Linked DNA regions of Homo sapiens: regions 1, 2 and 4 are each linked to region 3. Evidence: fine-mapped expression QTL. A gene starts in region 3. Each other region holds a variant in brackets. All regions are shown on one strand. Distances are from middle to middle.

What was found. PIP is the estimated chance that this variant, and not a neighbour inherited with it, causes the effect. A credible set is the group of variants that fine-mapping cannot tell apart.
Region 1: its variant is the best candidate, but not a certain one, in a credible set for the expression of CTBP2 in whole blood (INTERVAL, PIP 0.59).
Region 2: its variant is the best candidate, but not a certain one, in a credible set for the expression of CTBP2 in cerebral cortex (GTEx, PIP 0.59).
Region 4: its variant is the best candidate, but not a certain one, in a credible set for the expression of CTBP2 in nucleus accumbens (GTEx, PIP 0.51).

Annotation. Positions count from the first base shown.
Region 1 is chr10:125,004,329-125,012,030 of GRCh38, reverse strand. All of the region lies in intron 3 of CTBP2 (C-terminal binding protein 2), which reads left to right. Among named protein-coding and RNA genes, the nearest start is that of MIR4296, 25 kb to the left of the region's middle. RefSeq lists an enhancer at 3,674-4,179. The variant C/T (reference allele first, on the strand shown) is at 3,486.
Region 2 is chr10:124,958,006-124,965,707 of GRCh38, reverse strand. The region is part of intron 1 of ZRANB1 (zinc finger RANBP2-type containing 1); the gene reads right to left. Among named protein-coding and RNA genes, the nearest start is that of ZRANB1, 20 kb to the right of the region's middle. The variant T/C (reference allele first, on the strand shown) is at 3,581.
Region 3 is chr10:125,156,280-125,163,981 of GRCh38, reverse strand. It overlaps CTBP2 (C-terminal binding protein 2), which reads left to right and starts at 3,419. Exons shown (of 11, transcript NM_001329.4): 1 at 3,419-3,663. RefSeq lists an enhancer at 2,039-2,648.
Region 4 is chr10:124,889,720-124,897,421 of GRCh38, reverse strand. No RefSeq gene overlaps it. Among named protein-coding and RNA genes, the nearest start is that of ZRANB1, 49 kb to the left of the region's middle. The variant T/C (reference allele first, on the strand shown) is at 3,831.

The DNA.
Region 1 (7,702 bases), 150 kb after region 3:
TCACACAGGCTGGGTGGGGTTGTTGGATCTGCCCCGGGTGGATGGCACCTGCTCCCTCAGGGCAAAAATTCACCCCAGAACATGAGCTGCACCCGGGGTTAGGTGAAGGTGACGGAGCCTGAACACTCAACACCAGAGGCAGCCAACAGGACGGTGTCTGGGCTTCCAAAAAGCCACCAGTGCCTAAAAACACTTTCAAGCACCTAACATCACTCTTGGTTTTGTTTTTATTTTAAACTCCATTACAAACCGGGAAATAGCTGTCACTTTCCTGTGTTCTGGGCCCGCTGTGCTCCTCCGTTCCGCATAGCGCGGACACTGCAGGGTGCGGGCTGCAGCTTCCCCAGGGGCTCTGAGGAACCCGTTGAAGTGACTGCACGTGCTTGTCTTTCTAGGGTTGCAGATGAGCTTCGTTTTCAGGGGGGTTTGTATTTTGTGTTTTTTCTGAACTTGATGGTGTGGGTCTGGACATCTCTTTCCAACCCTGGAAGATACCACACATGCTCTTCGTTATTAACATGATCACCCAGAAAGCTTTTGGGGGCCTGAGAACATGGCCCAGGCTCTGGGGAGCATCAGACTGCACCTGACTGGCTGGATAAAGACAGGGGTACCTGGAGCCTCCTGCCTCGCCAGCTCTGTGTCCAGCTGTCACCTGAGCTACAAGGGAGATTACCTGGGAGCCTCTCATGTGTCACATCGTGACTCATTCAGATACATGTTTTATTTAAGAAGCAAATCTATTTATCAGGGTGTTCCTGTGGCCATTTCTTCACCAAACCTCCAGCTGACTTTGCAGAGAATGCCAAACTCAGAAGCCGAGGAGTAGCTTAAAACTAGGTTCCCCATGGGGCACATCCAGCCTTCTGGGGAGCCCACTTGGTGTGGGGCACCCCAAACAGCACAGCCCCTGGGTGCTCAGAGGCCTTGGTGAAGCTAGATTTCCCAACACTCGATTTTTTCCCTCCTTACAGAAAAGCAGGGGGAACTTGAGGGATAATTCACATGAAACCTTTGCCATAAACCCTTTTAAATTGTTCACAAGTAAGAGCCCAACTTTGGAAGATTAAGATCCTGGCGTTTTTAGTGTGAGGAGTGGGCTGGCTGAATATGCTGCAGATTGTGAGCTTTTTCCTACCTGGTTGTACCTCACTGGAGGAAAAATAAGGATAATCCCTATAGCTGCTAAGGATGTACACGGTGATGGCACAGCCATCACCGCTTTCTAAGTTTAGAAGGTGTGCTTCATGCTTTAAATTCCCCGGCACTCATTTTGTACCACGCTGCTCTCTCATTCTCTCCTCATGCTGTCTTCCAGTGCCTGGTTCAGGCCAGTCCTTGTCCAAGGTTGAGTTAAATCATTTTCAGCTGGGCCAGGTCTTCAACAGCTTGGTGTGTGTGATGCCACTCCAGGGCTGAGGTCCTGGCTTCAGGAAGAATGTGGGGATCGATTAGTGATGTCTGCCATGAATGCAGAAAGAGAGATAAGGGTTGCGCATTTGCATTGCATGGTGGGAGGAGGAGTGTGCACATGAGCCAGGGAATCTGTTGGGCGTGTCAGGTGATACTTAAAACTCAAGGATTGGGTTCTCCATTCTGGGGGAGCACATACTACCTATACATTACTGAGACTGTAAAATGAAATCGCAGCCTCTGGGAAGCTGGGCAAAGAAGTGGACGCAGCATTGGGAGAGCTTCCCAGAAGCAACACAGAGAGAAAGCCCATTTGCCAAATGAAAAAGCAGATAACAACGTAGAAACAAAGCTGAGATTTCCAATAGCAGTTGCTTTTTTTTTTTTTTTTTTTTTTTAACCTTAAAATAGTGCCACTCTTAGCAACACAGATTTTCTTCCAAATTATGCCTTGAAGCTGCTCCCGGAGCCACCCGCTCATCAGCACCCTGCTCCTGTGGTCCTTCTCGTGAAAGGCAGAGGGGAGATGCCTGTTGCCCGCAGTCTTCTCTGCAGCTGCCGTGGGAACAGGCACCTTCCCGGCTGCTGGGGACACAAGGAGGGGGAGTCACCGTGGCTTGCTCACTTTCCAGATCAGCCAACTGCAGAACATTTGTTGTTGTTTAGATCCCACGTCTGACGGTTTAGAACAGCTTTTATAACATGGTTAAACATGTTTACAAAGCAAGGGAGACATCTCTTACCTTGACAACACGAGGCTCCCACAGACCGCCTTCCCCCACTCAGAGCTCCACAGCCCTGTGTGCTGGGCTGGCCTGTAGACCCACTGAGGCAGCTGTGTTTACAAGTCTAACGCCAAGTGTCTGAGAGGCACTTGCGTACGTCCCAGCATCAGAATCTGGCCCCCAGCTTGGCCCTGTCACGATTTTCAGTTTTATGTTGTAGAAACCCAAGCCTCTGAAATAACACTGTTAGCAGGCCTTAGTTCTGATTCTGTGTCTGGCTTTCTAGAAATCAGGTCTGCTGAGCTCAGCCAGTGGGGATCGGGTCATGCTGGATTGCAGAAAGCGGCCACTTAATTGGGGAGCAGGCCGCATTTAAGAGGAAGCTTTTCTGAGGGTGGTGGGATCGGTGGGATATTAAGTGGGGCTTCCTTGGAGGCAGGCGGGGCCTCAGGTTCGGCTGTGTTGGGTCACTCCCTGTCCCGCCCCGGCCTCTGGAGTTTGTGTGGTTTTGTCTCCTCTTTCTTCCTGGATCATTGTGCATGAGGCTGGGAGCCACACCGGCTGCTTAGGCTCCTCCTGCCTCCCAGGCCACCTGCAGGTCACAGGGGCTGATGAAGCCGTGAATCGCTTGGCTCTGTTTGGAATGCTCGTTCCCCGGTGCCATAAAGAAATAGCACTTGAACATAAATTTAATTTACTTAGTAAGGCCATTTTTACTTTCTGCAGAAAGGGTACACTCTCCAGCAGTTTTCCCACGAGAGTTCACCCAACAAAGGACACAGGGTCATTTATAACCTGACACGTCCACCCTACCGCTGTGTCCAGTTTCCGTTGGCTGGAAAGGGACCTCACATTCTCTATTTGTCCCGATTGGCTAGCAACTTAGAACTTTTTTAAAGAGGCAAAGGTAGAGGGGAACAAAGGAAGGAGGAAGTAACTTGTGGAATGTTGAGAAAGGTAAAAACACCTTCAAATAAGGAAGAGGAACAGGCTATGACCTAATGCTTGCTTGGACCAGTATAAGCATGCTAAGGCAAATATTTAGGCTAAATTGCGGGAGCTAAGAACATAACGTACATTGATTTCCTTATTACGGCTAGCAAATATTTAAGAATGTTAGCACAGATCTTTGAATAAATTTTGCCTCTAAGAGAAGTTAGTATTTATTCCTAATTAGACGGGGAGGAAAGTCTTTGAAGAGGAACCTCTGCTTTACTCTGTACAGCTCGGAGCTGCTTGCAGCACTCTGACACCTTCTGTCGGGATCTTTGGAAGACCTGCCTGGATCTCCCGTCTGTGGAAGGATCCAGGTACTTCTTACAACATCTGTGTTAGGGCAGCTGGTGA[C/T]GGCACCCGGCAAATTCCAGCAACTGCCCTCATTCCACAGAGGCTCCCTCCTGCAAGGCCACTACTGTGACTCTGAGCAGCGGTTCTTCTCATGAATGTGATAGCTCGGTCAGCTCTAAGACTGCAACCTGCAGGGACTTCATGGGGCAACCCTGGGGTATGTGGCCAGTGTCTGTCCTTGGGCAGCCGTAGCCCCTGTCAGGAACAGGGAGTGACTCAGGCACTGGTGTCTTGAGACTGCTACGGTGTCAGGAAACTTCCATAAAATCTAGTGCGTTTTAAAAAAAGAGGCCAGAGCCGGCCAGGCACGGTGGCTTATTGCCTGTAATCCCAGCATTTTGGGAGACCGAGGCAGGTGGATCACCTGAGGTCAGGGGTTCGAAGCCAGCCTGGCCAACATCGCGAAACCCTGTCTCTGCTAAAAATACAAAATTAGCCAGGCATGGTGGCACATGCCTGTAGTCTCAGCTATTTGGGAGGCTAAGGCAGGAGAATCACTTGAACCTGGGAGGTGGAGGTTGCAGTGAGCGGAGATCGTGCCACTGCATTCCAGCCTGGGCAACAAAAGTGAAACTCTGTCTCCAAAAAAAAAAAAGCCAGAGCCAGCCTTTGCCTCCTATGTCAGAAATGATCATTTGCAGCTGCTTTGCTTTGGGGTAGAAGCCTCAAATCCTGAAACCCTTTACCCTGGGGCAGGTTGTCTTGTGCTGTAAGCAACAGAAACCCATTTAGATCATTTTTAAATAATGAGAATTTCTGTTGGAAGGATGTCGGCTTAGCTCACACAGTGTCTAGGAAGACTGGAAAATGGGTCTCAGAAACACTGCAGGCAGCTTTGTGTGGCAGGATCAATCCAGTTCCTTCTTGGTGACTGCTCAGGGGAACATCCCATTTGCCTTGCATGGTACTGAGCCAGAAGGTCAACTCCAGGCCTGTCTGCCTGTATCCGAGAAAGCAGCAGCTCCCCACAATGAAATGTAGCGTTTTCCAGCTCCGGATCCTTCCGCCATCCTCCCTGAGATCTACCTGCCTTAGGATCTGTGAGATCCACGCACTTTGCTTTTCCTGGGTGTCTGGTTACTGTTCACAAAAGTCCAGCAGTTTGGCCTGGTGTTGTCTTTGTTTTTGACTGAGCATCTCTCATTTCACAAGTATTTATTGCAGCTGCAGCTCTAAGCAATACCAGGCCCAGGGATGGGCGTCAGCACTGCCTTGAGCTGGTGCACAGCACATCCCGGACGGAGGGGCAGGGCCGTCCTGGTGCACACGCAAGCCTGAAACCAGATAGTAATTGATACCAGGGGAGCCGGCAGGGCTTTCTGCTCTACACAGTTAATGTGGGCAAGCTGTCAACAGTAAGGCACTGATGTCATTTCCGTGATGTGTCCAGTTGCAGCTGGAATTGTCCTGAAATGGACAAGGCAGGTTTACTGGCGGGAGACGGTAGAAAGGAAAAATAGCGCATAGAGGGCACCAGGGCCCTGTGACCCTCGTCCGCAAGTGTCTCCTCATACCTCGTGGTTGCGCACCGTGGTACGGGGCCACCCTGAGCGCTGACTCCCGGGCTGTGAAGTGGGAAGAACAGCAGCACTGCAGGACTCTTGTCAGCCTTGTGGTCTGTACGCATGGAAAAGGCCGTCAGCTGTGCATAGCAACTGGAAGCCATGGCTTTTTAGCATAAAGCCCAGTTCTTCGGAAGCCCTCATTACGTACTGCGCCTTGGGCTTTCTCCTCGCAAATTCCCAATCCTGCCCCACTGGGCCTGGGGACCCCACGTCCCTGAAAGGGTCGTGTTCCATCTTAATGTATATGAATCTTACTCTGTGTGTCAGTTACATCCTAATAGGTTAAAAACTTGCTCAAATGGTCAGAAGCCTGAAAGAGGCGTCAGGAATCCTGTGTGAGGTAAGATGGGGGATCTGTTTGCACCTTCATCTCTCCATATGAGATCTTCCATATGAGCTCTTCCAGAAACCTCTGCCCCAGGCTCCAGCAAGCCTGTAGGGCAGCGGCTGCTAGGCAAGGGCTTGAATTTCAGTCCAGATTCTCTGGTGTGTGGGTGGACAGTTTCCTTCTGGGACTGAAGGAGCACTTGGAAGATGGTGCTTTCCCTTCTAGAGCAAACCTTGGCATTGTCCCAGCTAAGCTCTCATGCCCAGGGCTTGGGGGTCTCCTGTGGCCTCCATATCCCTGCACCTCATGCAGGGCACGCAAGCATCCCACCCACTCCCAACCCCCCACCTCCAGCCGTCGTGCCCGGCATCTTTTCCCAGCATGAGAACCCGTTGGCTTTTCTCTTTTCCCGCCTTGCCATGAAGGACCTGCTGCCAGGATTCGAGCCTCAGACCTTGGACAGGTCTCGGGCCAGCCTCAGCCACGTTCTGCGTGCCCGGCCATCAGGGAGGGTAGAGGGTGGGTTTCACCAAGGAGAAAGGCAACCCGTGTCGGGGAGGGAGCCGATCGCTAGGCAACCTGGAGTTTGTTACCCTGGTAACGGATCCATGCACTGATGATGCTGCGGATGGACATCTTGTGACAATGGCCTCTCAGGCTCCCCAGACGCATCAGCGGCTCTGGATTCCCACCTTGCGCCCAGCGTGGTTTTCCTGTGTGGCTACCATTTAACGAACAGCTTGGATTTCTTATAATCAGGCACTCTCTCCGATAACCATCCTGCCAGCACCCCTGAAAGTGAAGTTGGGGTGTTCCTCACTGTGTGTGGGCGACCGCCTGGGGCATGAGACCAGGACTTCCAGGCCCCACAGGGTTGTGCGCTCAGACCTCAAGTAGGGGCCAGAAGAGTGTACTGAAACAGAAGGAATCTTGTGGAATTTGGCAGTTGTACCATTTTCTTAGCAGAAAACAGGAGCCCAGGTGGGAGCCATGTGTGTCGGGTTCCTCGTCAGGTGACGGTGCTGTTGCGGATCTCGCGGATGAGCTGAGGGGGTATCCAGCTTTGTGCTGCACGCTTCCTGTCCACTCATACAGGTCGTGGGCTGGTGAGGACACGGGGGTGTTGGCCCTCGTCCCTGCCTTATTTTCCCCCTCCCCTGCCCTGTTTTCCTGGTGCAGAAGGATGTTGGAGTGCGGATCCATGCGGACACCCTGTTTGGGGACCTGGGTGTCGGGGCAGCAGCAGGAGTGACTGGGTGCACGTGTGCCTTTGGTGTCTGAGCGTCAGGTGCAGCTGCCGCTCAGGGCTGAGAGGGGCCATGATTTCTCCCAGCCGGGGGTGGCAGGAGAACTGCACTTAGCTTGGGGGCCATGCGGGGCTGGCTGTGGACCTGGCTACCCCAGCCCATTCTTCTGAGGCTGGGACAAAAGCCTTTTTTGTACTTTGTGCTCAAAGAGACAATTATCCCAAGTCCCACTGGCCGAGCACGGCCTTCCATGCAGGGCTGGTGCAGGTGCTCTGGGCCGTCCCTCCCCAGCACCGTGTATAGTCTTAACAGGATGCAGTCACGGCCCCAGTGGAGGGGGATTTCCTTCCTCGTCTCCGAGCGTGTGGCTAACGGAATATGAGCCTTGGTGGTCCAGCAGGAGCCCCCCCGTGGCTGGGGTCCCAGTCATCGTCCCCACCAAGTGGCCAGCTTGGGGACTACTAAGAGCCCTTGAGGAGGTTAGGGATGGAAGGCGAGGCCACACAGATGAAGTTGGCCTTTGTGGAAGGCTCCTGCTTTTGCCTGTGGGACCCTGAGCCTGCTGCCTTGTGCTCAAAGGCCAGTGATCCCGGGAATGTCACACCTTCCTGGTTGGGTTACCCATGGTGGGTCACCAGGCTGGGCTCAGCCTGGAGCAATGGCCTGGACCGTCCAGCCTCAGAGGGAGGGAGGGGATGGGGATGTAAGGCCGCCGTCAGGGTTGATCTGGATATCTGAAAAGTTGATGAGCCCCAAAGTTTTAATCTGAGGCTAAAGAGTTCTAATTTGACAAGAGACATTGCCCCTTCCTGGCATCTCGGCGGATTGCACCTCTGGAACTCAGGTAGTTGTTCTCTTGTGTCCAGGGTGTGGGTCTTGAAGATGTGAGGTTTGGGCAGATGGTCAGGAGGACCTACGAAATCCAAGGATGGATTTGAAGGGGGCAGTTTTTGTTGGAGAAAATGCTGCTTCTCTGTCTCTGAGGTCTTCGGAGCCTGCTGGGTTTGCTGCACAGAATAAAGAGAGAAAAGAGGCCCTGAGGCTCTCGCTGCATCCTGGGCGGGCCCCGCAGGGTGT
Region 2 (7,702 bases), 200 kb after region 3:
ATTTATGGGACCAAATACTTTTAAGTGTTTCCTAAATTACATCAAGACAAATGTGTTTGCTGGACAGAACACTAATACTAGGTAAAAAAATATTCTTAGTGTACTTTTAAAAGAGTATTTTAATTGCCATCTTGAACTAGGAATTAGATCAGACATATTCCTTAGAATATAACAGATTGATAAAATGCAACAATTTTCTACCATTAGTAAAGATAACAAGGCTTCAAAATAATTCCCACATTTACTGAATCCTCATCATATACAGGAACGCCTTGCCAGGCAATATGAGAAGTACAAAGACAGTGAAAACATGACTCCAATATTCAAAACAGTCCTTTCTGCAAATTTCGATCCTCTCCTCAAAAAAATGACCCCCTGCCCCGAACACAGACATATACATTCTTCAGGTTGAAAACCCATTATATTAAGAATGCCTTCTTACAGGAATTCTTATTTTCACAGCAATGTAGCTTGATAAATTCCTCACCATGCATATACAAGTTCAGCTACAAATGCCCCACCTCCACCCACCTTACACATCCTTCTGAGGAACAGTGTACCCTAGAGAAGTCAAAGCTAAAGCTTAATCAAGGATGGCATGAGATAAAGGCTATAAATCTTCCCAAAGGGGCAAGCCTTTCAAATAGACCAGAAAGTGCTACTTGAACTAAAAACAACTCTATGATCGAAGAGTTTTCTGTTTCCAATTATTATGTTCAAATACAGAAAGAACTCTGAAACTTCTGCTTAAATTATTTAATGAACAATTAAGTATAGTCTGGTAGGGCCCATAACTTTTAAGATAATTCAATGCAGTTTTATTTTATTTAGGACTGACCATGCCCACACCATCTCCTTTCACTTCATAGCATTTCTGTATGAAGGCAACGACCTTTCCCTTCAGACCTATCAAAGCCCTTGACTATTCTCAGGTATACATAGCATCAAGGCACCTTTTATAGTCTTTAGTTCTAATCTAAAAATATTATCTACTTACAAATTTTTTCGTATTACATAAAAAATGTTCCAAACACTTCCAAAAACAACCCAAGAGTCTGATCAATTTAGCTGAAAAAGCAAAGAGGAAGATCTGTACAATTTATGTGTATATACGTGTATGCATGTATGTAGGTGTTTTGTACTATATGTGTTCATGTTTATTTCTTATTTCTCAAAGACAGAGATGAGGTAATCTAAAGCTAAGCACCAAATAACTTCCTTCTTTTGCTTGGAAGAAGGGGAGATCTTCAAATCGCTTTATTGTTTTTAGCTAACTCACCATATAGCTGAAGTCTAGAAGAATCTCATCTTAGAAATTCTTAAGATTTCCTCTCTAATGTCTCTGAGAGATTTCTGTAATTAGAAGTTAATGAGCACTGGGGGGTGGGGTGCAGACTACATAGCACAACAAAATCAGCAGACTGTACTTTGGAACTATAATGTACAATAATATCACCAATTCTGCTTTCATTAAGTGCTTTTTAAAAATATAACCAGAACTTACAATGTTGAAATGCATGGTATGTGAAATTATGTCTCAATAAAGCCGATATACACAAACACAACTAGGATTTCTATTTGACCTAATACAAAATTATCAAAAACACTTAATTAGTCCCTCCTACTCCATGCTCTGCATTAAACTACAAACGGGCATACTGCCCATTCCCCAGCATGGCAGACATACAGAAGATGAGGAGAACAGACTATTCTCAGTTTTTGACAGCACGAAATTCTCCAAACTTCCCAGAGCATGAAAAACACACATCACTTAAATATAGGTAAAAAATAATATCTAAAAGAAAATTATTTTATTATCTAGTGTTTGGGGAATACGTAATTTCATTCTTTTCATTAAGAATTGCACATTTTCAGCTACAAAGATTAGTAAATTACAAATCAAATTTCATGAAAATGTCACTGAACTGTCCCAATTTTTGCTACGTCTTTATTGCACACTGCTCAAAGAGAACTTCTGAAAGTTTAGACATTACTTCATAGACACGTTTTTGTTGTAGACGTGGTTGGTTCAACAGGATTTGGCCCATACGCATATAATTTAAAGTTTTAGCCACCGCATGTTTTCTACTTAAAGTGAAGTGCAGGGAAAAAGCATCATAATACATGCCCAAAAAAAAAAAAAAAAAAAAAAACAAACAAAAAAAAAAAACCTTACAATATCTGAGTTCTTCACATAATTACACTTTGAGCACCTTTTAATGTCAGGGGATAAAAAGAACGTAAGAATAAGGTAGAAGAGTTGGTAGACAGGGAAAGACAAATAAATGCAAGTGTTAAAATCTCACTTTATGGGAGAAAGGCCAGGAAAAAATGAAAAGTTCCAAGAGAAGATAATCAACATATACATGTTTTCTAGGTTACTGACATCTCACAATGCCTCCAAGAGTAACTGAAGCATTTTTTTTTTTTTTTTTTTTTTTTGAGACAGAGTCTTGCTCTGTCACCCAGGCTGGAATGCAGTGACGCGATCTTAGCTCACTGCAACCTCCACCTTCCGAGTTCAAGCAATTCTCCTGTCTCAGCCTCCTGAGCAGCTGGGACTACTGGCGCACACCACCACACCTAGCTAATTTTTGTATTTTTAGTAGAGACGGGGTTTCACCATATTGATCAGGTTGATCTCGAACTCCTGACCTCAGGTGATCCACCCACCTCGGCCTCCCAAAGTGCTGGGATTACAGGCGTGAGCCACCACGCCCAGCCAAAGCATCTTTCTCTTAGTACTTTTTTTGAAAATTTAACAAACGTGTATTATGCCTTCTGTCCCTTTCTCCTTCATGAAGACAAATAAAAGGACAGCTGAAGCCACTCTGGGACGATTAATTTTATAAAACTAATCTGTAGTATCACCATACATTCAAAATTGAATGAAATGCACAATTAGCCTAATAGTGAAACATAATTACAGATAAAGTGTTAATACACTTCTTAAAACATGAAGGCCTAAGAATGAAAGCCACTATATTATATATTACTAGCTAAACCGTTAAAAAAAATAAAAAGCAAACATATATTATTCCGTAAGCTGGGCCAGGAGTACAGTTTACGTATTTTGAAGCCACAGGTCAATGACTCACTGGGGACTTCACAGCTACTATGGAACTCCACTGGTTAGAATTTAGAGCTGGCTCATAGATATTTAGAAAACAGACTTATTTTTTCCCCCATATATGGCACAGTTTTCAAAGTTTTGCCTTATTTTCCTTTATGACATAAAATTATAATGGTTATTAACTTTGAAAAGAATGCCAAATGGTAAAAAAAAAGCCAGGACTTACCTGAGCCCACATGGGCCAGCCCAACACTACCCTGGAGTTCTATGGTAGCTGTGACATCACAGCATGGTTTATGCTGTGGGGTCAGGGTGGACCTGGAGTCGGCTGGCACAATTTCAGGAACCCTTAAAGAGAAAAGTTAGTTTTAAGTGGTAATGTTCAGAATGTCCTTTACCATGGTCAGAGAAAGATGCAGATGTGGTTTTCCTCTAGCCAGAGTTTAACTCATTTAACCGGTTTTCATATTAAAAGGAAACTATACCACCCAGTAATACTTTTTTATA[T/C]CATAAGCATTTGGCTATAGTTTAATCCTGAACCTGGAGATATTCACAGCAAACTCTTTCAAAACTAATGAGCTGTTTTTTAAATAAAATGACTTCAATATTTTTTAAAGTGTACCTTCAAGTAGGCAAAAGCACAGGAACAATCTCAGAAATAATTTGAGCAGGCCAAAACACCTCCTGGTTGTATTTTCCACATAATAATAGCAACAAGTTAAGATCCACTATTTCTATTCCTAGTAACAGTGCTACAAAACAACAGCCTATTCAAAAAATCAGATGAAAATCAAAATTATAAACAAATTCTTAAATTTAATCTATAACATATCAAGACTAGCTTCTATTCAACAATCTCACTGTCCATTACTAAAACATCCTCTTTAGAAAAATAAAAGATTCAATGAGAGAAGGAAGTCAAATAGTCACTAATTAAAGCTTTCTAAATTATCTGTAAGTTGTGACAAACTATGTCAAATATAGTCTATACTACTGAGCTCTTTTCTCCTTACATCTTTGATCAGAGTGTTAACAACCCACTCTTGTGAAAATATAAGTCCCCAAAGTCATGAAAAAATACCTAACCTAACAGATAACTTCGTAAGAAAGAAGATCCTGCCAAGCAGGAAGAATTGCTGCTGAAAGCAACATGGCAGGACTTAAAGGAAACATGCCACAAAGTTATCTTTGGGACAAGTGATCAGAGATGGGGACAAATGTTAACAGGGCTGAAACAGATGAACATGAGTTCACATCATGAGTCACTTAAAACATTACTGAAAATATTCAACTGAAAGGAAATTACGGTTCTTAAAAATCTTAGGTTCCAGCTGGGCTCAGTGGCTCACGCCTGTAATCCTAGCACTTTGGGAGGCCGAGGTGGGTGGAACACCTGAGGTCAGGAGTTCAAGACCAGTCTGGCCAACATGGTGAAACCCTGTCTCTACTCAAAATACAAAAAAAAATTAGCCGGGCGTGGGGGCGTGCGCCTGTCATCTCAGCTACTCGGGAGGCTGAGGCAGGAGAATCGCTTGAACCCAGGTGGCGGAGGTTGCAGTGAGCCGAGATTGCGCCACTGCACTCCAGCCTGGACAACAAAGAGCGAAACTCTGTCTAAAAAAAAAAAACAAAAAACAAAACAAAAACTCTTAGGTTCCAAAAGTAGATTTTGAAACTCATAAAATAGTGTATGCCAAAACCACATTCACCACTGAAATCACATCCAAAGGTTTTTCTGACTTCAAAATAAAAATTTCAATTGCCACACTGCCAAGTTACCCTGGCTGAATTTGAAACTAAATTTTAGATTTTTATAATTACACTATATCTCAGGTAGGCCGAGAGAAACTGAATAGTCTAGCCCACCTTTTTTTTACTAGAGGGTAAATGAACATTTTAAAAGTGGAAATGGGAGGCTGGGTGCAGTGGTTCACACCTATAATCTCAGCACTTTGGGAGGCCAAGGCAGGAGAATCGCTTAGAGCCCAGGATTTCAAGACCAGCCTGGGCAAGATGGTAAGATCTCATCTTTACAAAAATTTTTTAAAATTAGTCAGGCATAGTGACGCATGCCTGTAGTCCCAGCTACTTGTGAGGATCACCTGAGCCCAGGAATTCGAGGCTGCAATGAGCTATGATCACGCCATTGCACTCCAACCTGGGTAACAGAGTGAGACCCTGTCTCTGTTTAAAAAACGAAGCAGGGGCAAGGAAGAAAGGATAAAAGGAAAAACTTTCATAATTTATTATAACTTTATACTGTTCATATTATATACATTTAATTCTTCTAGACAAAAGTAGACAGAATTAAGACAGAAAATCATCAAATTGGAAGAAATGTTCAAAAGTAACCCAGTCAATCTTACTAAGGTCTCCAATTAGAAACACTAAACAAGAAAGCTCCTATAATTTGCCACTGAAAAAGAAAGTTCATGGCTTCTGTAGACACTCACAGCCCCACAAGCATCCATCCCCAAAAGTTTCAGACCCCATGTATCCAATAATCCATCAGGCATCCTCACCACAAAACCTCTTAAAAAACCTAAACTTTCCCTCTCCTATGTCCAGGAAAAATGATACTGTTAGCCAACCCAGATGTCCAAACCAAAAATCTGGCTTTCTAAACTCCTCCTCATCTCAGCCCAGTATCAATTCTTCCAAGTTTTGCCAATTCTACTTCAGTCTTTTTCAAATAAATCTCCCTTTCCCCATCTCCACTGACTCTACCCCAGCTATACCTGGCTATACCTAAGTTGCTATCATTTACTCTACTGGTCTGCCATCTCAAGTGTTGCTCCCTCTACACTAGGGTGAGTGTGGTCTTCTTAAACTACAAATTTAATTACGGCATTCCCTTTTCAAAAGTTGACCACTAGGCTGGGCGCAGTGGCTCACACCTGTAATCTGAGCACTTTGGAAGCCCAAGGAGGGCAGACTGCTTGAGCTCAGCAGTTCAAGACCAGCCTGGGAGAAACCCAATCTCCACAAAAAATTTAAAGAATAAGCCAGGCGTGCTGGCATGCACCTGTAGTCCCAGCTACTTGGGAGACTGAGGTGAGAGGATCCCTTGAGCCCAAGAAGGTTGAGGCTGCAGTGAGCCGTGATCATGTCACTGCACTCCACCCAGCCTGGGTGACAAAGTGAGATCTCATCTCAGGGGGAAAAAAAAAAAAAGTTTACCACTGCCCTCAGGTTAACAGCTAAATTCCTTAACCAGGTTAAGGAATTAACCTATTTAACCAGGTTAAATAGTCCCAATATTCCCTACAGGTTCTCTCTCACAGTCCTCATTCTACACTCCAACCAACTGACTTCTCTCGGGTTATTTGACATGCCTTGGTCTCTCCACCCTGGATTTTTAACACATAAAATTCTCACTAATAGAAACACTATTCCTTCTTCTCTTTCAAGTTTCAGCTTAGATGTCACCAAAAGTCCTCTCCAAATCTCCTAATGAGATTAGGTTCTATGCTCCTTCTAGGACCCTGTACTTCCTCTGCTGAGCTATCCTGGCTTGCTAAATTCTATTTGCCCTATAAACTCTTTGAGAGACATGACTTCTTTCAAAGTGCTTGGGAGCACACTCAGGGAGTACCTGAATGCATGAATGAATGAACAAAGAAAAGGTAAAAGCTAAGACAATTTTTCAAAGTAACTGAGGCCAGGTGCCAAGGCTCGCCGCTGTAATCCCAGCAATTTGGGGAGGCCGAGGCCAAAAATGATTTTATGTTGCCCAGACTGGGACTGGAGATGTGTATTTTTCATATAGATTTCATGTAACTTGATAAAATCACCAAAGAAAGTGAACGAAAGTGAACAAAAGACATGAATCAACAACTCACAGAAAAAAATACAAATGATTAATAAAATGAGACAGCATGCCATTCTTAACAACAAACATCAGCAAAGACAGCTCCACAGGGACTCCCAAACTGTTGCTAATAAAGAACAGGTTAATTTAAGGTGCAGCAATTCAATGTCATATTACACATTCATTTTTAAAAGGTAACATGTTGATTCAAAATATAAAGTTCAATGAAAAAGGATATACAATATAATCTCAACTATGTAAAAGTAAATAAATGCAAAAAAAAAGACTGAAAATACACAAAAAATCTGACAGACTTCCTCTAGGCAGTGAGATTACAAACTATTTTTATTTTTTCATAGCTTTTCTTATCTCTGAAATAGTCTACAATGCATATAGTCTGCTTTTCTTTGAGATGGAGCCTTGCTCTGTCGCTTAGACTAGAATGCAATGACTGATCATAGCTCCCTGCAGCATCAAACTCTTGCCTCAAGCAATCCTCCCACCTCAGCCTCACATACCTGGGACTACAGGCACCCTGCCACCACACCCAGCTAAGTTTTTTATTTTTAATAGAGAAGAGGTCCCGCTACGTTGCACATGCTAGTCGCAAGTTGTCTGCCTTTATTATTCAAAAATGAACTAAACTATCAAAGATCGTTACAAGAAGTCAGTACAAATGTCTAAATTTGGTGAAAAAGAAATAATATATTTTCATCAACTGAGGAAAGGATAAACAAAATGTGGTATACACATACAATGAAATATTATTCAGTCTCAAAAAGGAAGGAAATTCTGGCTAGGCGCAGTGGCTCACGCCT
Region 3 (7,702 bases):
TTTTCATGTGCTTACTGGCCGTTGGCCATTTGTCTACCTTCCTTGGAGAAATGCCTATTGAGTCTTTGGCCATTTTTGAATTGGGTTTTTTGTTTGCAACATCTTAAAAAAAATAGTATGAAATAATTCACATGTTGGGGGCAAATGAGCTCCATATTTTAAAATGCAGGTAAAGTGAAGTGAGAAATACTTTTCAGCTCTCAGGATGCCTTGCTTTTAATGTCTTCAAAACAAATAATATATTAATAATACTTTCTCGGCCGGGCACAGTGGCTCACGCCGGTAATCCCAGCACTTTGGGAGGCCAAGGCAGGCGGATCACAAGGTCAGGAGATAGAGACCATCCTGGCTAACACGGTGAAACCCTGTCTGTACTAAAAATACAAAAAAAAAAATTAGCCGGGCATGGTGGCGGGCGCCTGTAGTCCCAGCTACTTGGGAGGCCGAGGCAGGAGAATGGCTTGAACCCGGGGGGCGAAGCTTGCAGTGAGCAGAGATCGCGCCACTGCACGCCAGCCGGTGACAGACTGAGACTCCGTCTCAATAATAATAATAATAATTATACTTTCTCTTTTTTTTTTCTTGAGACGGAGTTTCGCTCTGTCGCCCAGGCTGGAATGCAGTGGTGCAATCTTGGCTCACTGCAACCTCCACCTCCCTGGTTCAAGCGATTCTGCTGCCTCAGCCTCCCGAGTAGCTGGGATTACAGGCATGCGCCACCAGGCCTAGCTAATTTTTGTATTTTTTTTTTTTTAGTAGAGACGGGGTTTCACCATGTTGGCCAGGATGGTCTTGATCTCCTGACTTCGTGTTCTGCCCCGCCTTGGCCTCCCAAAGTGCTGGGATAACAGGCGTGAGCCACCGTGCCCGGCCAAGAACATGTTAGTAATACTTTCTAAGTCAGAATTCAAATTTATAGAACACGTGAAAGTGAAGGAGTGATATGGAAAATCAGGCTTTTTGTGGTTTCTTCCTGAGAAAAGAAGACCACTCAGAACCAAAGACTTCTGTGAAATAAGGAAGCAGAAAATCTTTATTTGTAGTTCTTATAGTTTATGCCTAAGAAACTCCGAAGAACAGGTACTGGTAACCCGGTAGCCTGGCGGTGGCCGCGGTTTGTTTACAGCCAAAAACTAGCTGAGGCGCCATGCCCTTGAGGCAAAACTGCTGAAGAGAGAAGCACCCTGAAGATCAGTTTGTGGAGATCCAGGGTTGCCAGAAGACGAGACAACCGTGATTGCATGTGCGGAGGTTCCTCGATGGAAGCGCAGCCCGGCGCGCCCCTCAGCTGGCCTGGCCAGGCCCTATGAAGGTCACGCGAAAACCCTGCTGCGGGCTTCTTAGCGACCGCATTACGTGGACTAGCGGGCAAGAAAAGCCTGGTCGGCGCTGCCCTCACAGGTAGGCGGTCTTCAATCACGTTTTAAAATCTTGTTGAGTGATTAAGCAATCTTCGATAGTCCCGGCCCCTCCACTGCAGGCCGCTCAGGCCGCAACGCACCTGGTGCGCTTTGGCAAACAAGCCCCGCGGCGGGCTGGGGCAGGATTTAAGAAATGTTTAATGAAGACTGGGAGGCCTGGAGCAACGCTCTTTGGGATGCAGAAAAGGGTCGTGCAGCTCGGTGGCCTCTCCTCCGGCCCCCTGGCCCTGGCTGTAAGTTTCCTCGGCTCTGCAGGGCGCGGGGCACTCAGGGATGGAGGAGACCACACCGCGCGGCTGGGTTCGCGGAATGGCGGTCCCTGCGGCCTCCAAAGGCGGGACCTCAGACCCCTCCCACTCCTTTCCTGCTCGACATCTCAATCCAGCTCCTAATATCTCAATAGGGTTTTTAAACAAATCGATCCTAAGGGCTCAGTTCAGCCCACCCAGGGATTCTTGGAGGACGCACGCCGAACTCAGGGTAGTGAGAAGAGTTTGGGGGGCCCTGGGGCGCAGGGAGAAGACCCCACACTCCACGGCCACCAGCTCCCTTCCGGAGACGGCGCTCGGACGTCGCGGGTCACGGGCGGGGAATTTAGCCCAGGTGCTCGTTGGGCCGCGAGCGGCCGCTGGGCCTGGATTCCCAGGCTCGCTGTGCAGACTCCAACCTTGAGACGTCAGGACGGCGTGGGCTCCGGGCCGCCGCGCAAGCCCAGGACCCCGAGTCGCGGGCCCCCACGCCGCAGCGCGCCTCCCTCCTCGAGACCCGGGGCTCCGACCCAACACAGGGCTTCTCAAATGCCCCGGCGAGATCCAGGCAGCAAGAGGGAACCTTTTTTTTTTTTTTCAATGTGTAAGAATGTTTTGCTTCTTTTAGGGCACAGCACTGCTGCAACTTGCAGCACAGAGGGCCCTTCCCTGCGCACCCACAGCGGTCGCCGCCTCTCCGGCACGGTCTCCCGGATCTGGATTTGGGGAGCGCAAGTGCCCCCTGTGGCCGGCCCGCGCCTGACCCCGCGGGCCTGAGAAGGCAGAAGCGGCCGGTGCGGGGCACCAGGAGGAAGTTGGAGCCCGGGGGCCGGGAAGGGGGCTGGTTGGCGCCGCTGGCTGGGCGGGGCCCCATGGGACCGGGGCCACCCGGGGCTCGCGTTCCCCCACGTGGCCGGCTGCCCGGTACCCCACGTGGAAGGGGCGGAGGAGGATGAAGGGCCAGGGGAGCAGCGGACCCCGAGCCACCGCGACAGGACCTCGGCCCCTGCCACCGAGGCCCCCGCGCCTCCCGAGGGCCTCCCGGGCGGGGCCGGGCTAGGGAGTGCCCGCCGCGCCCGGCCCCTGGCCCTCCCGCCCGCCGCGCTTGTGTGCACTTTCGCGGAGCCACTAATCCCCCGAGAGAGCCGATTTGTAGTGAGGAGTATCTGAAGGGGGCGAGGCCGGCCCATGTGGGGTTGTGTCATTGGTTTGCAAAAAGAGACCCCGCCTTTGCCCCCCCCCCCCAAAAACAGGAGCGAGGAGTGAGCGAGCGGCGACCCTCACCTCGCCTCCCGCCTAGCTCCTGCGCAGCCAGCGGGTACCGGGAGCTGCGGCCAGCGCCGCTTCTTTCCTTTCCTTTTCTCTCCGTTTTCCTTCTCCTTCCCCGGAGGAGAAAACAAATAAAGAAGAGCAAATAGCCGGGAGGCGCTCGGCATCCAGGACGTTCCCTCCCCCGATCCAAGTTGGAATTAGCATCCTCTCGGGGGTGAGCGCGGCGCGGGGCGGGCCCGGGCCGGGGACCCCCAGCGCAGCCCCCTCTCGGCGGGCGGGAGGGCGCGGGGCCGGGACGCGGGGGGAATTGGGAACCGGGTGGGCGGAGGAAGGGGGTGGGGTGGGTGGGGAAGTAGGAAGAGGCTCGGCGGCGAGGGGAGGAGGTGGAAGGGAAGGGAGGGGTAGGGTGGGGAGGGGAGGGGAGCGGAGGGAGGGTGGGGAGGGCGGGAGGGGGAGGGGCGGGGAGCTGGAGAGATTAAGTTTTTGTGTGTGTGTCCCTGTGTGCGTGTGTCATTTTAAGGTGGCTCGGGAGCGGCCCGGAGGAGCCGGCGGCGGCCCGAGGAGCGAGGGACCGAACCGGGAGCCATGCCGCGCTGAGGGGGGGCCGCACAGCCGCCGCCACCGCCACCGCCGCCGGGTGGGGTGGGAGGGGCGGGAGACGCCGCCGCCGCCGCCTCCAGGGTGGGCGCCTTTCGCCGTGGACGCCGACCGTCCGGGACGAGGTAAGGGGGGCCCCGGGGGAGGGCTGGGGCCGCCGCCGCCCCCGCCTCACCTGCGGCCGCGGGCTGGGGGCGCCGCGCCCGCGCCTCACTGCGCCACTCAGGGAGGAGGAGGAGGAGGAGGAAGAGGGCGAAGGACGCGGAGCCGGCATCCGAGGACATCTTTGGTCCGTGCCCCCGGCCTCGTGTCCCCCCTCGGCGCCCGGGGGTGGACGCTGGCTCGGGGGTCCCCGCCCGCCCCCGCCACCGATTGCGCCCGCTGGCCGCCGTTTGCGCCAGGATTTTTGTTGTTGTGATGAGAGTTGATGAATGCGAAGTAGGCGGTCACCTTCCTTCCCATCAGGGTTGAAAAAAAAAAAAAAAGAAACCCCGAGCGCGGCGGCGTCCGGAGGGCAGCGGCGGCGGCGGCGGCGGCGTCTCGGCGACGGTTCCCTGGGCGCCCCCGGCTCCTGCTCCCTGAGCCCGGTGGGTGCGCGCCCGGGGGCCGCCGGCGACCCAGGCCGAGCGCGCGACGCGCCGCGGGGACAATACGGCCGGATCTCCGGGGAACAGGAGTCCGAGCGCGCCGGGGTGCGGCGGGCCTTGCGCCTACGAGGCGAGGGTGGGGGGGGCGCGGAGAAGAGGGGTTCCGTGGGGAAGTCGGGGCGTGAGCGGCTCTCGGTCCCCAGGGGCGCTGCCCCTGCCGGCGGGGGATCCCGCGCGGCTCCCCGGGAGCGCAAGTGAAAGACGGGAAAGGAGGCGAAGTGGAACCCTTTTGTTTTGCCGGCCCCGCATTGTTGGCTCCTCCGGGCAGCCGGGCCACATCTGCTGCCGCTGCCGCCGCCGCCACTGCCGCGCGGGGCTCGGCCCGCCAAAGTCGCGGCGGGGCGGGGGGCCTGGGCGGGCCGGGCGGCGGGCGCGGGCGGGGGCCGGGCGGGCCGGGCATTTCCTCTGCCCGGCCGCGCTCCCGCGGGCACCACTTCCTCCTCGCCCGCCGCCGCCGGGAGCCCGGCCCGCCCGCCTCCCCCACCTTCCCCGCCCGGGCCGCACTTTTCGGGTGGGGCGAATCAAAAAGAAAAAGTTTAGCAGGAGGGGCTGGCTAGGGCGCGCCCCGGGCGGCAGGGACCCGGTGCGGCGCAGGGACAGCCGGGCCGCCGCGGTTCCTCCTCCTCCCAGCCCTCCGCGGCGCCGGACGGCCCCGCGCGGCCGAGGGGAAGCGCCTTTCTTTCTCTCCCTCGCGCTGCCCCCAGCGCCCCGGGCGAGTTGGGCAGAGGCGCGCGGGAGCCGGGGCGTGCCTGGGCCTTTCTCCCGCGGGAGGCCCAGCGGCGTGGCGGGTCGCCTGCAGCCCACGCCGCGCCCTGGGGCTCGGAGGCCGCGGGCCCAAGAGCTCAGCTCGGTCACCGCGGGCCGCGCCGAGACACACACGCGCGCACACACTCCCTCCCGTGGCTCGCTTTCCGCCGGCGACGACGGTCGCGGACACGGAGTGAGCGTGTGCGCGCGAGTGTTTGTGGTTGTCCCCCCTCCCCCCGCCCGGTACTTTTTCCGGAGGCGGCCCAAGCGGCAGTTGGCTGCAGAGGACCCCACGTTTAGGATTTTATAGGGAAGAGGAGGAATTTTTCGTAGAAATCCCCGCTCTGCGTGCTCGTGGTGGAGGCTGCTGGCAATGGCCTACGTCGTCATACCGGGCTTCCTTGCCCTGTCCGGGGTAAACAATCCTTCTGTGTATTTACCCCCTTTTTTCTTTAAAGATTGGAGATCGGGTTAAGTTCTTAGAGAGTCTGATGCGAGTGGCTGGAAGGATAGACAAGAGAATTCTATTCTATAAATATGCATTGGGAATTTAAAATGCTAAACGCCTTATTTGCAATTCTGTTGGATATTCTAGAGACTGGTATATTTTTATCTGACATGGATAATTTTGAGGGGACGTTATATTTTGGGGAAGTTTACAAAGTGATTCTTTCTGCCTTTCTAACTTGGGCGAAATATATCGACTCATACCACCCTTTCAAAAAAGATAGCTTTCTCTACTAGGTGTTTGGGTTCGAAGACAGTTTAAAAATTACCTCGTGTTCAGTACCTAAGATTGCTGTTTTGCCTCGAGGGTTTTCCAAGTAGAAGTGGGTAGTTTTCATGTACTTTGAGAATTCTGAGGTTTTTAACCCCCCCCTTTTTTTTTAAATATAAATCTTTTCTATTTTGAAGTAATGAGACTTTAAAGGATCTTGTTTTTGTAATCACTTGATTTCAAAGGATACTTCTTACAGCAATTATAAAGTAATAGTCAAAATGCTAATTAGACATTTTCAGTCATAGCTGCTTTAATGTTGAAACAGAATTTTTTTCTTTAGCAGAGACTGTATCGTAGAGTTGAAACGCTAAATATTCTTTTGTCTGGCATCAGATCTCTGAACTGCTCTGACATTCTCCTGAAAAACCCCTAGTGCCCTTTTTATTGCCCCCAAAAGAAAAGTTAATGAGATGGTAGATTTCAAGCAAAAAAACAGGCCCTCTTTCTTGCAAAATATGCTTACAGTTGCCATTGAAGTTGGATGTTAGCCGTGAATGCACTTGCCTTTAATGAAACCAGTTTAATCGTTCACACTTGATCAAGTATAACATGAGCAAACAAAGGAAATAAGCCAGCATATTTCTGTAGAGTGTAAGTGTTGATGTTGGGTCACCCCCTCCCCCTACCCTGCCCCCCTGTAAAAGGGAGAGAGGGTTGAAGGCAAAGGGAATTTATGGCGCTGATTGGTTTTTTGTGCCCCAGGGGTAGGGGACCCCAGTTACATCCCTGTGGAAAGCAGTTATTAGAGGGAATTAAAAGATCTTGGGTTTGGAGCTTGTTTTGAACCTGACTAGGTGGTTTGGGTTTAATTCTTTTTCCTGTTCAGAAAGATAAGGTAAAGAATACCGACTCCCCCCCGCTCTTTTTTTTTTTTTAACCCCCACCTGACAACCCCCTCTCTAATTGTACCTTAATAAGAGTCTGCAGGTTGAATGCAGAACCCTGTGAGTTATTTACGGTTTCGCCTGGGAGCTTTGAAACTGACCCTTGAATGGGTGTTCTCCTGCGGGGAGGGGCAGGGTGAATTACCTTTTCTTAACTGATTTTAAAAAGCCTCATTGTCCCTAAAAATCATTTCCTTGCACGAGTTGCAATTTATGTGTGGAACTGAATCATCAATTCCGTGAAGAGAAAGATATTCGTAAAGTACATCTCTCTAAAGTTAAGAAAGTAAGAACGTTTGGCTAGTTAAAAACAAACACTACTGCCATTGTAAAAAACACGCCAGTGACATACTTGGTGAGATATTTTGGCCTTTTGAGAGTCGGGGCACACCTGTTCCTGTCCCTGCCAAGTTGTGTGTGCTTTCCCTGCCATTGTTAATCTGGTCGTGTACACAAGATGAAACGGTAAAACTTGCTATCTGTATAATTATTAACTAGTTTGTCAGTTACCCTTTCAGAGAATAATCAATAACTTCAGTCTTAACTTTTAAAACTCCAGAAATTTTACTTTTTAAGTCTGGAAAATGTTTCAAAGAGAGATTAAATGAAACAAACAAACAGCAACAACAAACAACAAAACCAGAAAATCAACCTACAACTTTTTAGTTTCTGAGTAGCCAGCTACAAGGCAAAGAAATGATGAATATATATAGTATGTACTGAACAAGCAGTGCACTGGATTTTAAAATGATATTTTTATTGTTACCATTGCTGTTAAAATACAAACAGCTCACACTATTTGAAATCCTTGAGATTCACGGATTGAAAAAAAACCGAAAAGGACACCTCTGAGTGAGGGAGTAGCCCTGCTGAGATCTAGCACCAGAATGCCATTTGCCAACAGTTCACTAACATCATGAATCATTTTTGAAAGCAAAGTTATACCCTTTGCACTTAACGCTTTCCCTAAATGGAAAAAATTTAAAGAGTTTACAGCAATGGTAGAATGGCAGCCCCAGTTGTCATTTTTTTACCACTGTCATTTCCATAGAGAGGGGCTGTCATCATAATGTATGTGCATGCAGCCTGGGTCCCTCTGTTAATC
Region 4 (7,702 bases), 270 kb after region 3:
CTCAAGTGATCCACCCACCTCAGCCTCCCAAAGTGCTGAGATTACAGGCATGAGCCACTGCGCCCAGCCCCAAAGTATTCTAATCATAGCGAACTCCTGGTGCCATCTCTTAGTCTCAACAATGATCAACTTGTGGCCAGCCCGGCTTCAGTTTTCTCTCCATCTGCTTCTCCACCTTCCCAAATTATTTTGAGGTAAATCTCAGACATCCTATCATTTTGTCTGTAAATATATTTCTATCTCTGAAAGTAAAAAACAAACAAAAAGCCTGTGGTAGGCTTTTCGTTCAATATGAGAGAGAGAAACCCCAGCAGGGTTATCAGGGAAGGGCAGATAAAGAGGGGAATTTTTACAAAGGTACTTTTACAGGAGCTATGAAGTTTGGTTAGTCTAACAATAACATTTCCAGTGCATTCCCTGAGGAAACTGTCCCTGTCCCCTCCCAGACACAGCAGGCTACAGGGGCAGCCTTCTGTTGCTTGGCGGATTTTGAGGTCAAACAGAATCTGTGCTAGGTAATCAGCTTAGTGGATAAAAAACCAAGAACTTACATCTGCAGAGTACTTACAAACTCTCAGTGTAGGGGGTTGATTCGTGTCTGTATAATGTTCCCTTGAATATTGTACTTCGTTGTCACTATTTGAGAATATGTGCCTGATTAGTAATACCCAGTACATAAAAATACCAAATATATAACTAACCACATGAGCAGGCTTTAAAATGATGGTGACTTTAATTGCTAAATTCACTCCCAGTTCTAAAATGTGGTTTGCATGTAATATTTCATCCAGAAAAAAAGGTTGCTAATAGCAATGTCATTACAGATTGTTTGTCAACCTTAATCAAAATAATTTCCCTTTCCAAATTGCTGCTTTAGTCTGTGCTTTGTGAAAGGAGTTTTAGAATTTTGTTTTAATCTGAAAATCAATCAGCTAGAGAGGTGAAAAAGTGGAAAAGGAAAAACATGAGACATGTCTGTATTTTAAGAGATTCTGTAGCAAAAGCTTCGTACACCATACTCTATGGTTTCCAATTGAGTGCTAGAAAACTTCCAGAATACAACAGAGAAATTATCCCTACATGGAATATGGTTTCATAATTCCAACACACGATACATAATTCCCCCACATTGTTTCCTTAGTTTCATTCAGTAAAAATCATTACTGTATCTTTAGATAATAAGCAGTGAGTAGCCAGCTGAGTAGGAGAAGATACTGGTGTGAAAGAACTGTGATGTCTTGGGAAAAAATTCCTGGGCTGGGCACATTGGCTCACGCCTGTAATCCCAGCACTTTAAGAGATTCTCCCCCAAGCTGGGCAGATCACCTGAGGTCAGGAGTTCAAGACCAGCCTGACCAACATGGTGAAAACCCATTTCTACAAAAAATACAAAAATTAGCCAGACGTGGTGGCACATGCCTGTAATCCCAGCTACTTAGGAGGCTGAGGCAGGAGAATCGCTCAAACCCAGTGAGCCAAGATTGTGCCACTGCACTCCAGCCTGGGCGATAAAGCGAGACTCTATCTGAAAAAAGAAAAAAAAAAGCCGGGCATGGTGGCTCAAGCCTGTAATCCCAGCACTTTGGGAGGCCAAGGCAGGTGGATCACGAGGTCAGGAGATCAAGACCATCCTGGCTAACATGGTGAAACCCCGTCTCTACTAAAAATACAAAAAATTAGCCAGGCGTGGTGGTGGGCGCCTGTAGTCCCAGCTACTTGGGAGGCTGAGGCAGGAGAATGGCGCGAACTCGGGAGGCAGAGCTTGTAGTGAGCCGAGATCACGCCACTGCACTCCAGCCTGGGAAACAGAGCAAGACTCTGTCTCAAAAAAAAAAAAAAATTCTGGAGCACAAAGGATCTGGTTCATTTTTCGGTCATGGGAAGTCAGCCTCTTGCCCTACCGCTGGTGCTACTATCAGAGTGAATCTTCATCTGGAGCAATGGCTAAATTTAAATATAGTTACTGGAATGGAACATTGCTAGATGATGGATGTCAGCTACTCTGAAAGCAGAAAAGACAGGGCTGTGGCCTCCACATCCACAGAGCAGGAGGCATTGTCCTCTGGACCCCCCTAATTATGCCTCTGTCCCTGAAGCAACATGACAACTTTCCTCTCCATACCCTGCAATTCCTGTCCCACTTTCATAAGCTCCAGAACATTCTCTTTATTGATTACTTTTATGTATTATAAAGACAGTTGGTTTATTTTGAAATTTTATGCTGGGGATGGGGAGTGGAGAGGCTCCTAATGGGGTGCCCCTGCCTCTCCACTGTTTCTGCCTCGGCAGCAGGACAGCGTGGTGGCTCCAGGGTCACCTGTATAACACCAGCTGTGGTATTGAGCCAGACATTGCCTCAGGTGGCCTCTGTTTACTCATCCGTAAAATGGGGATAATAATACACTCACCTCATAGGGTTGTTGTGAAGACTAAACGAGAACGTGTGTGCCCCAACCTCAGCAGCGTGATGGAGAAAGGGGACCACAGGGCCGAGCCTCAGAGAATCTCCTTCAGGGCCTCCTCAGCCCAAACTGCTTCCAGCTCCTTCTCTGCACATGGGCCGGCCAGCCACTTCTCTCTAGGCCTCTTTTGTTTTTTTTAAAGGTGGGAGGGGTAGATGAGATCATGAATAAATTCCCTTCCAGGCATAAAGTTCTATCAACTCCTTTTGAAATGACTGACTCAGTGCAAAATATGCACAATTCTATAGTATATGACGCCGTGACCAAATCACAGAGCTTCTCTTTCCATAGATTAAGCGTACATGTGGGGCCTGGCACGGTGGCTCATGCCTGTAATTCCAGCACTTTGGGAGGCCAAGGCAGATGGATCAATTGAGCCCAGAAATTCGAGACCAGCCTGGGCAACACGACAAAACTCCTACAAAAAATACAAAATTAACCTGGTGTGGTAGTGCATGTCTGTAGTTCCAGCTCCTCGGGAGGCTGAGGTGGGAGGATCACAGGAGCCTACGAGGTTGAGGCTGCAGTAGGCAGTGATGGCACCACTGCACTCCAACTGTGGTGACAGAATGAGACCCTGTCTCAAAATAAAAACGAAAACCCTCCATGTGAGAAACTTGTGTAGGGCTCTAAGGCAGATAAACCCAGAGGGAGCTGATGGATCCCCTGATGAACAACGAAGTTTGTGTTTATGAGCCCAGAGGAATTGCCCTTTTACCCCAGTGATAAAGGATTTTTTTTTTCGGGACGGAGTCTCACTCTGTCGCCCAGGCTGGAGTGCGGTGGCACGATCTCGGCTCACTGCAAGCTCCGCCTCCTGGGTTCACACCATTCTCCTGCCTCAGCCTCCCGAGTAGATGGGACTACAGGTGTCCACCACCTCGCCCGGCTAATTTTTTTGTATTTTTTTTAGTAGAGACGGGGTTTCACCGTGTTAGCCAGGGTGGTCTCAATCTCCTGACCTCGTGATCCACCCACCTCAGCCTCCCAAAGTGCTGGGATTACAGGCGTGAGCCACCGCACCCGGCCTTTTTTTCGTTTTTTTTTTTTTTTTTTTTTTTTGAGAGAGAACAGTCTCGCTCTGTCGCCCAGGCTGGAGTGCAGTGGCACGATCTCGGCTCACTTTAACCTGTGCCTGCTGGGTTCAAGCAATTCTCCTGCCTCAGCCTTCTGAGTAGCTGGGATTAAAAGCATGTGCCACTATGCCTGGCTAAATTTTTTTTTTTTTTTTTGTATTTTTAGTAGAGTCTGTTGGTCAGGCTGGTCTTGAACTCCTGACCTCAAATGATCTCTTTGTGTGTGTGTGTTTATGTGTATGTGTGTGGAATGGATGACCCTCCCTAAGGGCATAAAGTGGGTACACCCACA[T/C]GTACATTGACCTTGATTTGTATCACATTTGACTGCTTGCAAAGCATTTTCACCACCATTATCTCCCAATTTAATGAACTAAGCCAGATTCTAGCAATTTCACAAGATCCGCTTCCTCCTGAGTAAAGCCTTTTCCAGAAATGTCAACAGTTCTGGAGAATGTGAGTATCTTTGGGTCATCAAAGTTGAGGCACCTTAACTGGGGATCCCACCAAAAGATTATAGTGGCCACTTTTGAGAACACATTTTTTCACTTACATTGTTGAATCATATGTGTGAGTGTGTTTGTGTAAGAGGCATATGTCATGGAGTTTAAGATGTACATTTTTTCACGTTTAATGTATTTGAATTTGGGATGCATCTCACAATACAGTCTTAGCTTTCTGCCTTAAACCTGCACACTGACTGGGTTGATAGTGTCACCTGGAACTTCAGAGTGTGACCTTATTTGGAGATAGAGTCTTTATAGGTGCAATCATAAGATGAGCTCATACTGTTTTAGGGTGAGCCCTAAATCCAGCATGACCAGATTCCTTATAAGGAGAGGAAAGGACACAAAGAAGACACAGGGAAGAAGGCCAGGTGACAACGGAGGTAGAGTTTGGAGTGATGTGTCTACAAGCCAAGGAACAGCAAGGATTACTGGCAAACACCAAAAGCTTGGAAGAGGCAAAGAGGGCTCCCTTCCTAGAGCCTCTGGAGGAGGCACAGCCCTGCTAACACCTTGCCTGCTGATTTTTAGCCACCAGAAATGTGAGAGTGGCCGGGTATGGTGGCTCATACCTGTAATCCCAGCACCTTGGGAGGCCGAGGCAGGAGGATAACTTGGGCTCAGGGGTTTGAGACCAGCCTGGGCAACATAGTGAGATCTGGTCTCTACTAAGAAAAAAAAATTAGTTGGGCATGATGGTATGCACCTCTAGTCTTAGCTATTCGGGAGGCTGAGATAGGAGGATCACTCGAGCCTGGGAGGTCGAGGCTGCAGGGAGCTGTGATTGCACCACTGCACTCCAGCCTGAGTGACAGAGCAAGAGCTTGCCTCAAAACAAAACAAAACAAAACAAACAAACAAACAAAAAAACCCAGAAATGTGAGAGTTCAGTTTCTTTCTATTGATTTCAGCCCTTCGTGTATGGGAGTTTGTTACAGCAGTCCTGGCAAATGAGTACACCCTGCAAAGAGTGTGCATGTACCTGTGCGTACACACACACACACACACACACTCTCACACAGGCACATATAGGTTTGTTTCTTTCTCCTTACTCACAAAAGAAGGAGGAAGGGAGCTGACGTCCCCTGAGCTGCCGATGCATGCCGAGCTGGCTACCCTCACAGAGGCCAGCTCACAGAATTCCTGCCGCTCCTGGCAGTCAGCACCCATTGACAGATAAGGAGTCTGACCACAGAGAGACTAAGCTGGGCCTGACTACAGGTCCCATGGGCTTCAGAGGTGGCATCGCCATTAGATTCTGGCAAGGAAAAAAATCATTTTTTTTTAAAGACGCATGTTAGGTAACCATGATATCAGTCTTCTGGGCATAAGAGAAATGGTGAGCATCGTACAAAGTTCTTACATTCAATTTGTTGAGTGCCCTGAATTTGTCTTTAAAGGATACATTTTTGCCACCCTTACCCCAGCAGTCTAAGAGTCAGAGAGCCTAGGCAGCCATGGCAAAGGGAATAAACCATCCTCGGAGCTGAGCTTCATCCTGGGACAAGCTCCAGAGTCCTGTGTCCCCACGTCTCTCCTCCCTACAAAATCCCAGGAGCTCTGGGTTCTCCTGAAGCCATTCCCTCCTCTCAGCCAGGGCACTCCCGTAGTCCTGCCCTGGGTGTGTTACGGTGCAGGGAATGCAATATGGTACTATTTGCATGTGTTTTTTTTCTTTCTTTCTTTCTTTTTTTTTTTTTTTTAGATGGAGTGTCGCTCTGTCACCCAGGCTAGAATGCAGTAGAGCTATCACAGCTCACTGCAACCTCCGCCTCCTGGGTTCAAGCAATTCTCCTGCCTCAGCTGAGTAGCTGGGACTACAGGCACACACCACCATGCCCGGCTAATTTTTTTGTATTTCTAGTAGAGACAGGGTTTCAACACATTGGTCAGGCTGGTCTCGAACTCCTGACCTCAGGCGATCCACCCGCTTCGGCCTCCCAAAGTGTTGGGATTACAGGTGTGAGCCACTGCGCCTGGTCAATGTGGTTCCTTTTCAAGGAAGGAAGGGAGGGAGGGAAGCATAAAGGGAGAGATGGGCCAGGGCAGTGGCTGACACCTGTACTCCCAGCACTTTGGGAGGCCGAGGTGGGCAGATCACCTGAGGTCAGGAGTTTGAGACCAGCCTGGCCAACATAGCAAAACCCCATCTCTACTGAAAATACAAAAAAAAAAAAAAAAAATTAGCCAGGCATGTTGGTGTGGCACGCCTGTAGTTCCAGCTACTTGGGGGACTGAGGCTCAAGAATTGCTTAAACCCAGGAGGCAGAGGTTGCAGTGAGCTGAGATCGTGCCACTGCACTCCAGCCTGAGCATTACAGCGACACTCCATCTCAAAAAAAAAAAAAAAAAAAAAGGTCGGGTGCGGTGGCTTGCACCTGTAATCCCAGCACTTTGGGAGGCCGAGGCAAGTGGATCACTTGAGGTCAGGAGTTTGAGACCAGCCTGGTCAACATGGTGAAACCCAGTCTCTACTAAAAAAACAAAAATTAGTCAGGCATAGTGATGCACTGCTGTAATTCCAGCTACTTGGGAGGCTGAGGCAGGAGAATCGCTTGAAGCCGGGAGGAGGAGGTTGCAGTGTGCCACTGCACTCCAACCTGGGTGACAGAGCAAGACTCTGTCTCAAAAAAAAAAAAAAAGCAGGTTGCGGGGGATGGGCAGGGAGAGGGAGAGGGAAGAAAAGGGAGTAAGCAAGGAAAGTGGGCTTAGCACAGGGCCTGGAACCTAGCAGATGCTGCTCAGTGTCTGCCACTCTACTCCCTGCAGGAAACAGGGCTGCATTTTTGCGCTTACAGAAAAGTCTTTCCCTTTACACCCAGGCATGAGAGGCCCTTTCCATGAGCCTTATACGTGACAAACATACACATGAAACACATGTATTGAGGAGCACCGGGGTGTTTTGGCCCCGTGGGATCCTGTACTCAGCATTGGCCCAGCACAAGTCAGCACTGTAAACACCACCAGCCAGGACTAGGATGTGTCAGGCCTGGAGAGATGCTTCTCCGCAAGGCCTGGCCCCTGACCTTGAACAGAAGGTGACCTTGTCTGGTCATCCTGGAGATTTGTGGGTTGTGGTGCTCCCAGCATTGGAGTCAGGCACTGCTTCAGAGAGCAGAGACGATTTAGCCAAGGGAAGACCTTAGGCCAGAGAAAGACAGGTTGTTCAATTTGTCAAATCGTCAAATAGCATAAATACAACCGATTCTTACTCATGGAAATATTATTTCCCAGTAGTCCTGGGTCCCTGCATTTCTTCTCCTCATGTTTGAATTTGGGCTTGGGAGGCATTCACAGATTAGTGTACATTTCACAACAGTTGCATATGGTCACCAAGGAACATTGTATAATATTACACAGTTCATATTCTTCTTCTTCTTTTTTTTTTTTTTTTTTTGAGACAGAGTCTTGCTCTGTCGCCCAGGCTGGAGTGCAGTGGCACAATCTCGGCTCACTGCAACCTCCGGGTTCAAGCAATTCTCCTGCTTCAGCCACCCGAGTAGCTGGGACTACAGGTGCACACCACCATGCCTGGTTAATTTTGGTATTTTTAGTAGAGATGTGGTTTCACCATGTTGGCCAGGCTGGTCTTGAATTTCTGCTCTCAGGTGATCCACCCGCCTTGGCTTCCCAAAGTGCTGGGATTACAGGCATGAGCCAC